3 linked regions of the Homo sapiens genome follow. The protein of the gene in region 2 interacts with the protein of the main gene of each other region in a pairwise test. Each region holds a gene or a part of one and is shown on either strand. Other genes may lie near its edges. The genes, in order: SRPK2, LUZP4 and SRRM4.

What was found.
Region 1: the proteins of LUZP4 (region 2) and SRPK2 interact in binary tests that used the Homo sapiens proteins (3 or more experiments, as listed by UniProt).
Region 3: the proteins of LUZP4 (region 2) and SRRM4 interact in binary tests that used the Homo sapiens proteins (3 or more experiments, as listed by UniProt).

Annotation. Positions count from the first base shown.
Region 1 is NC_000007.14:105,130,175-105,133,925, reverse strand, and holds part of SRPK2 (SRSF protein kinase 2), read left to right. Parts: exon of another isoform or gene 1-821; coding exon 822-922; exon of another isoform or gene 923-1,027; coding exon 1,028-1,135; exon of another isoform or gene 1,136-2,159; intron 2,160-3,751. UniProt on the Homo sapiens protein: Serine/arginine-rich protein-specific kinase which specifically phosphorylates its substrates at serine residues located in regions rich in arginine/serine dipeptides, known as RS domains and is involved in the phosphorylation of SR splicing factors and the regulation of splicing.
Region 2 is NC_000023.11:115,292,665-115,296,415, forward strand, and holds part of LUZP4 (leucine zipper protein 4), read left to right. Parts: intron 1-3,751. UniProt on the Homo sapiens protein: Export adapter involved in mRNA nuclear export in cancer cells. Binds and enhances the RNA-binding activity of the nuclear RNA export factor NXF1. Can restore mRNA export function in cells compromised by loss of mRNA export adapters.
Region 3 is NC_000012.12:119,145,409-119,149,159, forward strand, and holds part of SRRM4 (serine/arginine repetitive matrix protein 4), read left to right. Parts: coding exon 1-277; intron 278-3,751. UniProt on the Homo sapiens protein: Splicing factor specifically required for neural cell differentiation.

The sequences.
Region 1 (3,751 bases), on a different chromosome or scaffold from region 2:
GCATGATCTGAACTTGTTTGAGAAGATCTGGCCCCAGAATCTCTGGGAAGCTGGCCCTATACCTGCCTTTGAGATTCCCTGGAGTCATCCTGGAATTTAGAATGACTGCTCATGTACATGACAAGTTCATGACTGACCTCAGAGGTTGCCTTTATGGCCCAGGCCATCTCAGGAGACCTCTGTCTGGGACCTTCCTTGTCTAAAACAAAACCAGAATAGTTTAGTCCCTGCCTTTAATCTGTGTTTGTTAATCAACAGTCATCTACCCCTTGAGATCTGTGTGTGCTCAGCCCAAGCAGTGGGAACTGTAGGGGATGATGTGGGTGTGAGGTGTCGGTGCCAGGGACCCTGATGTCTTGTGGCGTCCAAGGAACTGTGTGTCACTGAGAGTGATCGGCCCCCACAGCAGTGTTCTTTCTACCTTCATGTTCCTTGTAATAATGCATCAGCAAGCTCGATCTGGGCCGTGAAGGGATGGATTGACACCATGAAGAGCCGCCACAAAGCTGCAGACAGGGGGACAGCAAGGCTGGCTTGTTCTAGGGCTGACCTGGACCCGAAGAAACTGGGGATAAAAAGAGAAAGGTCAAGGCAGTGCCCTTGGCGTCCTGTGGGCAGCCCAGTTTGCTCTTTTCTGGAGTATTTTCCAGAGGTGGAGAACAAGCAATTTTAGTTCTGTCAAGTTTAATTTACAGTATTCCAGGCCTAAGTGATCATTCCACTACTCTTGAGGAAAGGAGACTGACCCTGGCAAACACTGTGCTCACACATGCAAACCACCTATCCCGATCACTAACTGTCCTGCTGTTTGCTCATGCCAGCAAAAACCCGGGCAGCTGACTTGTTGGTGAATCCCCTGGATCCGCGGAATGCAGATAAAATTAGAGTAAAAATTGCTGACCTGGGAAATGCTTGTTGGGTGGTAAGTAGAGTTTTCTTTCTAAAACCTTTGGTCTTGATTCTGTGTGCGAAGACACTTTTTGAATGTCTGTGTTGCTCCGTGGTAATGCAGCCTGTTCCCTTCCAGCATAAACACTTCACGGAAGACATCCAGACGCGTCAGTACCGCTCCATAGAGGTTTTAATAGGAGCGGGGTACAGCACCCCTGCGGACATCTGGAGCACGGCGTGTATGGTAAGGACGGCTGTGCCCTTTGCTGCCATGGGAATTGGCTCGTTCCTTTCACACTCTGGATGGGGCTGAGTCTCTCTGAGGCATGCGACCTCAGTTTTTCTGACTGTAAGGGTCATCCACCGTGGGCTGGGTGAGGGGAAGGTTGCTGCCGCAGGCATCTTAAGAAGTGGAAGGATCCTCCTCAGGCGGGCCCTGGGTGTTTGGTGTGGTTGTGGGCTTGTGAGAGAGACATGGTCTCTTCTTAAGGCCCTGCACAGCCCACAGCCCCATGAATCAGACTCAGTTGTTGTGACACAGTGACTTCACTTGTGGTCCCTGAAAATGTGCAGGGTATAGGGAGCTTTTCCCTTCACTCACACTGTGGAGGAAGATGAGGTAGCATCTCCAGGGGAAGACTGCCTAAGGCGGGCAGGTGGGAGCCCCTCCAGGTAAGCCTCTGCCTGGTCAACCAGACATGCAGGGTTCCTCACCTTTCCAGACTGGAAGGGATTTCCCCAGATGCCAATGCATAATCTCTCTTCCCTTATAAAGCAAGAGCTAGCAGATATTCTGGCTTATTCTAGGATGTCTAGCCTCTTCTGAAACAGTGGCAGCAACGCCCACTCCCTCTGACAGAGTCTGTTCCCAGAGTGGTTGAGATGACGGCTTCCACAGGGCGGCAGAAGCCTCTTCTTCTATCTGTCAGGCCTGTTTTGCTGCTGGTTTTGTGCTGCACAGTTGCATTGTCTGTAAACTCCCCTGGCCCTGCCTGGCATCGTTTGGTCATTGACCCTGAACCTGTGAGTTGGTGAACACAAAGGGCCCTGCATTTGCGAGCCAGTTCCTGGTTCTCTTCCTCTGCCCTGTTTCCTGGCCCATTCAGCAGCTTTTTCTCAGTGGTATTTACTTAGGCGTTCCGTGTTGGGAAAGGTGGGTTGCTTGCTGTTGGGTTTCATGCTTTTCCTATTCCATACTGCTTTTTATCCATATTCTTCCAATATTTAAAAGAAAAGATTGTGTGCAAGGCTTAGCATTTTTCTTCTCACTGAAAAAAGGAATGCAGAATAAATATATTAATTTTCTGTTATTCAGAGGTTAATTTAACAATTTTCTTGAATTTACTGTGTTTTACCTCCTCTAATGCTCAAGTAAAAGCATTGTTGAGCAGATAGTGCCAGCTGATAGGAGAAAAAGAGGGTGCTTTCTGTCTTTCAGCTTTGACTCAGCATGATCTGAGTCAGCACATGGCCAGATAGGTCCTGAAACACCAGGCCTTTCTATTCCCTCGTTGCTCTTAAGGATAATACCAGACAATAACGTTTAAATTATTAAAGGTATTAAAGTTCTTCCATATCAAAAACCAAGTCCCTGCCTTAGCTAGGTATAGAAAAGAACGGTTAAAAGAACCGGTGGCCAATGATGGTCACTTTGAATTTAGAGAGTGCTGTGTGGAGAGGCATTTGACCCTCTCTGTGTGACCCCAGCAGGCAGACTGAGACGTGGGAGTTAGTGTAACGGGAGCTGCGGAGACACTGAGTGGGAGTCGGGGAGCAGGGGCCATTTCAGGATGTGGGGAGGTTAGACCACAATGGCCACTAGCAGCAGGGCTGCCCCGAATTAGGCGCTAAGTACTCTTTGAACTCTGAAATGCTGTGCTTCTAATTTGGGGTATTAAGTTTGGTGATATAACCAGAAAAATAGGACGCAGTCACGGATGTAGTGGGTTAATGGAGCTTTCAGCACAATTTTATACCAGGTTATCTGACCTGCCTTCCATTAGATGAACGTTTGTCCCTCCATACAATTTCCCTGTCCTGCTTACTTCTTGAAATGCTATTGCTGTGAACAGTGGCATAAATATCAATAACAGATTCCCAAGGAAAAGCCTTTCTGTCTTCTCACCTGCCCCCTTCCCAAGAATTAAGCATAAGCTCCCTCAGTGCTGTCAGGACGGCTTATGAGGTTTGCTTTTTCAGTTGGTTGTCATAAGGGAGGTTTTTTTTTTTTTGGAAAGGGGCAGGCCCTCATTCACTGCTTGCCCCACCCCCCAAAAGTCATGGCTTTAGAGGTTTCTTTTGTTCCTCCTAGAGAACCTAGGAGCAATGAGGCAGTTTTTCTTACCTCATCGTTCTGTTGTAGTGTAAAAATAGGACATTTAATATATTAAATTTGACCTCATAATACCAAGCTGTCATAAGGCCACAGATGGTTCTTGGTGGTAAAGCCTATATATAGTCTTTGAGGGTTTTGTTTGTTTGTTTGGAGACAAGGTCTTGCTCTGTTCCCCAAGCTGAAGTGCAGTGGCAGGACTATAGTTCACTGCAGACTCCACTTCCCAAGCTCAAGTGATCCTCCCACCTCAGCCTCTGGTGTAGCTGGGACTACAGGCACATGCCACCACGCCTGGCTAATTTTTGTATTTTTTGTAGAGATGGAGTTTGTCACGTTGTCTAGGCTGGTCTTGATCTCCTGAGCTCAAGTGATCCACCCGCCCTGGTCTCCCATAGTGCTGGGATTACAGGGATGTGACACTGTGCCCGGCTGTCTTTGAGATTTATAAATAGCATCAAATCTCACAGAGACTCTGTTGGGAATGAGAGCTGACGGGTGGTAGCCATTGGCTATTGTCAGGGAGGA
Region 2 (3,751 bases):
ATGCGGTGAGATTGGACATCCTTGACTTGTTTCTGATCTTAGGGAGAAAAGCTTTCAGTTTTTCACCATTAATCATCATTTTACCTTTGGTTGGGTTTTTGTAGATGCCCTTATGAGGTTGAGGAATTTACCTGCCTCCCACTTTACTTCTGAGGGGGAATGGCCCTGAAAAGTAACTAAGTATTTTTTGTTGTTGTTGTCTTTAAGATGTTTTTAGCAATCTATTTTAAGATCGGTATCAATTTCCTCTTCTAAGACATGGTCCCTGTTGATCCCATACTGCTACTTCCCCCTACCCCAACTTCATCACAAGTTCTGAAATATTTTGTGGCATTAAAATGACTTTAAAAATAATATTTGGTCACTGGCCAGGGCTGGGACTAGGGTGAGGTAAATGAGGCACTTGCTTCCAGTATAAAGTTCAAGGAGTCACAAAAAAAAAATTTGTTAATAGGGATAATTAATATTTTAATGAAATATTTAAAAAATCAAATGGACACACTACAGCCATCTGTCTGGCCACCTGTTTTTGTAAATAAAGTTTTCTTGACCTAAGAACTAGAGTGAAACAAGTGAAGGAGGGCTGTGCAAGTACAGGGTCTGATCTGATCCTATTTTTTTTTTTCTTTTTTGAAATGGGATCTCACTCTGTCACCCAGGCTGGAGTGCAGTGGCATTATCACAGCTCACTGCAGCCTCGACTTCCTGGGCTCAGGCAATCCTCCCACCTCAGCCTCCCAAGTAGCTGGGATACAGGCGTGTGCCACCACGCCCAGCTAATTTTTTTGTATTTTTGTAGAGACGGGTTCTCACTATATTGCCTAGACTGGTCTCGACTTCTGGGCTCAAGCGATCCATCCACCTTGACCTCCCAAAGTGCTAGGATTACAGGTGTGAGCCACCACATCCGGCCTTTGATACTATCCTTTTTTTAAAAAAAAAGCTTGATATTTTGTTCATCACGGATTGGTTTTGCATTGATTTTTATTTTTGAAAATACTGTGAGGCGGGCGTGGTGGCTCACACCTATAATCCCAGCTCTTTGGGAGGCTGAGGCAGGTAGATGACCTGAGGTCAGGAGTTCGAGACCAGCCTGGCCAACATGGTGAAATCCTGTCTCTCCTAAAAATACAAAAATTAGCCGGGCGTGGAGGCAGGCGCCTGTAGTCCCAGCTACTTGGGAGGCTGGGACAGGAGATTTGCTTGAACCCGGGAGGCCGAGGTTGCAGTGAGCCGAGATTGTGCCACTGCACTCCAGCCTGGGTGATGGAACTAGACTCCGTCTCAAAAAAAAAAAATAAAAAAAGATTGAAAAAAAGAAAATATTGTGTTGAGATATTTTAATCTTGATTACTGAGTTTTGGGGGACCTCCTTGAATTTTGTGCCTGAATTCCTCACTTACCTCACTCTAGGCCCTGCCTTGTCACTGGGACCTTGAAGGGAGAAAAACCTAGAACTGAAGGGAATTTATAGCACTGAGGTAAAACTTCATGCTTCCTGCACTTTTCTTTGTGTTGATTTCACTGATGTTTTTGCAACTGCTAACAGAAAAGACAAAACAAAACTGATAAATAGCTAAAGCAATGGGTTTATCTCAAAATTCAGAGAAATAAGGGCCATAGTTGCAGAGTGGCTTGGTCCCAAAAATGTAGTAGTTGTGTGACCTTGTGCAAGTTGCTCCATCTCTTGGGGCCTGAGTTTCCTGATCTGAATAAAATCTACATCATAGAGTTGTTGAAGATTAAATGAGAGAATACAGGTAATGTTCACAAAGTATGCTGCCTGACGTGGAAAAAGCTGAGTAAATATTTGCTATATGTGCCCCGGAAAGTGGGCCTAAACGCTCACGTTTGGGTAGCCAGCAATTTGGCAAGCTGGAGAAGTTACCTCTCCTCTTAGGATTTTGTTATCAAACTTCATAGATACAGTAGACATGAAAGAGATTAAAAACCATCTAGGTGAAAGATGGGGTTTAAACAGCTCACGTCAGTCTCTGGGAGACTGAGAGAGATGGTGGTGTCGTGTAACTTGAATAATAGTGAAGTAAACGGACTTAGGAGGCACTTATATTTTAGTAGATGATTACAGCTGGAAGGATACTGGAGAGTCTGCTTTGGGAAAGATTGCTTCAGTTATTTGAAAGGCTGAGGAAAGATGTTGAGTTGAATTTGGTAGGTTAGTTGGAGATTAAGTATGACTGTAAGATCTCATAGTCACCGAGTTGTAAAAAATCTTGAGGTCACTGTTTTATCCTTTTAAACGTTGGTTCTCTATATCCATATTTTAAACATTGGTTCTCTATATCCATATTTATACCTTTTTAGACAGATGAGAATCCCAGTTTTGATCATGTCAGGAGGAACAGCAAAACTTTCGACTAGTTATCACAGGCCCTTGCGGTTTATTTTATTTTTACTTTTATTTAATTTTTTGAGACAGGGTCTCTGTCGCTGAGGCTGGAGTGCAGTGGCACAATCACAGCTCACTGCAGCCTGGACCTCCCAGGCTCAAGCGATCCTCCCACCTTTGCCCCCAGAGTAGCTGGGACCCTAGGTGTGCACCACCACACCTGGCTCATTTTTGTATTTTCTTTGGTAGAGACGGAGTTTCGCCATGTTGCCCAGGCTGGTCTCGAACTCGTGGGCTCGAGCGATCTTCTCGCCTTGGCCTCCCAAAGTGCTGGGATTACAGCCGTGAGCCACCGTGCCAGGCTGAGGCCCTTGCAGTTTGAAGGCAAGAAAAATACACAATAAATAGCAAATACATGTTGCTTTCTATGATGTAATGAGAACGCCATACTTTTTCCTGATAAATTTCCCCATGTTTTTCTCAGTGAAAATAATACTTTTTAACAATGCATATCTTTGTTTTTAGATAACTAAACACATGCTTTAGAAAAGCAGTAGTATGTTGGATGCAAGGTTATTACTTCCATTGTAATACACGCTAAAGTAGGAAAAGGCTCTACAGATTTATTTTTGTTTTTGCCCTCAGTAAACATACCCAAAAAGTATTAGAGTCCTTTTTTTTTTTAAAACAAATAAAAGGCAAAAATAAGACCAAAATTCGAACTGGTAACAGCAAGAACTTAATAGGAACTCCACTCCCCTGTTAATTACTTTTACCTAAAAGAGACTGATGCAAAAGTGTTGTAGTTAGAAAGAAAAGAACTCTTTCTGCCTGCTAGATATGTTGGACCACGAATCCACAAATATGGATTATCCACTCTGTATTCTGTGCTAGGCACTTAGTACACTAGTAAATAAACAGTGGTCTCTTCTCAAGTACCTCCTAATCTAGCTGGAGAGACAGCTAAGTAAATATGTGCAATTATACATTGTTTTAAGTATTCTGGAAGTATGTATAGTCAGAATTTTTCAGAAGTTGAGAGGAACCTAAGTCACTTACATTTTTTGAGGTTTCCAGTGTTTTAAATATTTAAAAAATGGCAAAACAAAAATTGTGGTGTATTTTACATGTTTATAAATATAAAATAGTGGTTTCAACCCACTGTAAAATAAAATGCAATATAAGTATACTTTTCACAAGAAAATTAATTATGCAATTTAAATAAAAATGTAATTATTCATATGGCACCTCAAGCAGTGTGATCAGTTTTAAACTGTGTGAGGAATACTGTCTTTCTTCAGTCCTGACAGTTTATTTCTGAGAGTAAGTATATCAAGAATTCAAATTTAAGGCTCTTTGGTGAGGCCTGGATCAAATGTCTCTCCTTGAGAGATTGGCTAA
Region 3 (3,751 bases), on a different chromosome or scaffold from region 2:
TCTTTACCAAAACAGCCAGCCCGCTCACCACCTCGCGAGGACGTTCCCAGGAGTACGACTCAGGAAATGACACGTCCTCGCCACCCTCCACGCAAACCAGCTCAGCCAGGTCTCGGGGCCAGGAGAAGGGGAGCCCCAGTGGGGGCTTGAGCAAGAGCCGGGAGCTCAACAGTGGCAACACCTCTGATTCAGGGAACTCCTTCACCACCTCCTCACCCCAGAACAAGGGGGCCATGTTGGAGAATCTCTCCCCCACCAGCAGGGGCAGAGAGTCAAGGTCAGTGCACCACACAGGGTCGGGGGTAGACGGTCTCCCACCTTAGCTCCACCTTCTCATGCTCTCATCCCAGCCTCCCCCACTCCACCCCCAAGATTATTTTATTTGTAAGAGAGATGAAACTCAACTCAGACTGGCTTGTTTTAAAACACTAGTGGCACTAGCTTCAGGTACAGCTGGATTCAGGGGTTCAAAAATATGTTGCTGGAAATCCGTCTTTCTCATTACATCTCTTATTCTGCTTCCTCATCCTACTGGCCTTATTCTCAAGCAGATCCTCCCAAAGCATTGTCAAATATGCCAAGCAGCTAACATTCTATTGGTTTAGCCAGCCAACAGGAAAACAATGCTTCTTTCTCAAAGATTTCAGCCAAACACCAAGGCAGGTGCTTATTGGTTCTGTTTGGCCCAGCTTAGGTCATCTGCCCATCACTGTCCCAGGGGATGCTATGCTGTTGGCCAGAATGTGTCAGATGCCATCACTAGGGCTAATGAGTCGAACCTTCCCACACTCCTCTACAGGAAAAGCCAGGTTATTGGTATCAGGAGAGATGGAGGCTAGGCAGGCAAAAAAACAGATGACAATTTTACCAGTAATCTTAGAAGGAAGTCGAACATTGACCAGGCGTGGTGGCTCACACCTGTAATCCCAGCACTTTGGGAGGCCGAGGCGGGTGGATCACCTGAGGTCAGGAGTTCGAGACCGGCGTGACCAACATGGAGAAACCCTGTCTCTACTAGAAATACAAAATTAGCCGGGTGTGGTGGTACATGCCTGTAATCCCAGCTACTCGGGAGGCTGAGGCAGGAAAATTGCTTGAACCCTGGAGGCGGAGGTGGCAGTGAGCTGAGATTGTACCATTGCACTCCAGCCTGGGCAACAAGAGTGAAACTCCATCTCAAAAGAAAAAAAAAATGAAAGAAAGTCTAACATTAAATTAATTGTAAGTCATTTAAGAACATATCACAGGCCAGGTGCGGTGGCTCACGCCTGTAATCCCAGCACTTTGGGAGGCCGAGGCGGGTGGATCACGAGGTCAGGAGATCGAGACCATCCTGGCTAACACAGTGAAACCCCGTCTCTACTAAAAATACAAAAATTTAGCCAGGCATAGTGGCGGGCGCCTGTAGTCCCAGCTACTTGGGAGGCTGAGGCAGGAGAATGGCATAAACCTGGGAGGTGGAGCTTGCAGTGAGCCGAGATTGCGCCAGTGCACTCCAGCCTGGGTGACAGAGCCAGACTCCATCTCAAAAAAAAAAAAGAACATATCACAGTATTTACCCAAATGAATTGAAAACTTATCTCTACATAAAAACCTGCACTTGGATGTTACAACAGCTTTATTTGTAATTGCTAAAACTTGGAAGCAACCAGAATATCCTTCAGTACGTGAATGAATACATAAATTATGATACGTCCAGACAATGGAATGCTATTCAGTGCTCGGAAGGTATGAGGTACCACGCTATGAAAAGACATGGAGGAAATGTAAATGCATATTACTAAGTGAAAGAAGCCAATGTGAAAAGGTCACACACTGCATGGCTCCAACTGTATGACATTCTGGAAAAGGCAAAACTATGGAGAAAGTACAAAGATAAGTGGTTGCCAGAGGGTGAGGGGACAGAGGGATGAATAGGCAGAGCACAGAGGATTTTTAGGGCAATGGAACTACTCTGTGTGACACTACAATGGTGGATAACTGTCATTATACATTTGTCCAAATCCATAGAATGTATAACACCAAGAGGGTACTCTGATGTAAACTATAGACTCTGGGTGATAATGATGTGTCAATGGAGGTTCATCGATTGTAGCAAATGGACCACGTTGGTGGAGGATGCTGATAGTGGGGAATAAGGCTGTGCGTGTGTAGCAGCAAGAAGTATATGGGAGCTCCCTGTGCTTTCCATTCAATCATGCTATGAAACTAAAACTGCTCTAAAAAATAAAGTTTATTAATTATAGATACAGATATACCATAGTATAATTTATCAACATATCAGAGAACATTGAGATTTCTCCATTTTTTTACCCATCTTAACACACTCACTAGATGCAGTTTTCCTGCAGAAAACTCTTCCACACAGATGCATATGAGCCAGTTGTAATTCTACTTCGTCATCCGCTTAACTCTCTCACTCAAGAAATCACAACAAAATGCTAATCACTGAGGTTACTGTCATCATAATAGCTACTAAAATTTACTGATCACTTAGTCTGTACCATTCATTCTGTTGTTTATTCCTCAACTTGTTTATCAGGCAAGTCCTCTCTGCCAGACACTCAGCCTGGTGCTGGGGATTTAAAAATGGAACAGTCCTTTTTCTCAGGAGCTTATAATTAATGAGGCAGATGCACAGTTGCGGGATGGGTGGAAAAGCTTTGCTGGTGCCCTCTGTCATGCTAACAGTGAGGTTTTTCTACTTCTGAGGGTGGGAGTTTGCCTTTGTTCCATATAGCCAAAATTTTCAAAAGATGACTAACGCCTTAGCACTGAAGCAGCTAACAGCTTCTTCAAAGACAGAGCACTCTTTGTCCCTAACACATACCCCATTTCAGTCCTGGACAAACAGCTTGACATCCACATGCAGAACTGCCTTCCCATTTGCCTGCCCCAGGTCATCCCTGGCCTCAGCTCACACCCAAGCTTGACTGAGAACCTGAGCTGGGCCAGAGCCAATGTCAGTGTCTCCAAGAACAGGCAGTGAAGTTCCCAGAAGGGAGGAGGAGGACACATGTTTACTGATATACAGCAGTGCTATTATGCAGGAAAAATTGAAATAGCAATAACAACAACAATAATAACGGCAGTTCATATTCGTTGAGCCCAAATCACATGCTAGGTACACTGCCAAATGCTTTCCAGAAATAATCTTCCCGAGCTCCTCAAAACCTTTATAGGACAGTACTATTTGTAACCCTTTTTTACCTGATGGGGAAACTGAGGCTCAGAGTGGTTGAGAAACTCAGTTAATAAGTGGCAGCACCAGAATTCAAATACAAATATGTCCCCCAAACAGGAACTAAAGCCTGAGAGACATCTAGCAGTTACCTGTTTAATTTGATCTCCATGGACAGCCAAATTAAGTAATTTAGACCCAGCCTTTCACTTTGAAATATAAATGATGGTTGAGTCCATGACTGTTTATGTCATGCCACTTATGAGCAGAGAGGGCTCAATAAATATGGGCTGAGTGGAAGAGACATCAGCTCTAAATCAAAGGAACCATAGACACTGAAGGTAGGGAGCTGGTGAGGTGGGAGGGGTGGGGACTCTGGAGCTGCACAGATCAAGGTTTGGGGCTCTGGGTGGTTTTGAGGAAATAACAAACCCTTCTGAGACTTCTCTGTAAATCTGGGGGTAATAATAGCATTGGCAGCTGGGCGCAGTGGCTCATGCCTGTAATCCCAGCACTTTGGGAGGCCAAGGCAGGTGGATCACGAGGTCAAGAGATCAAAGCCATCCTGGC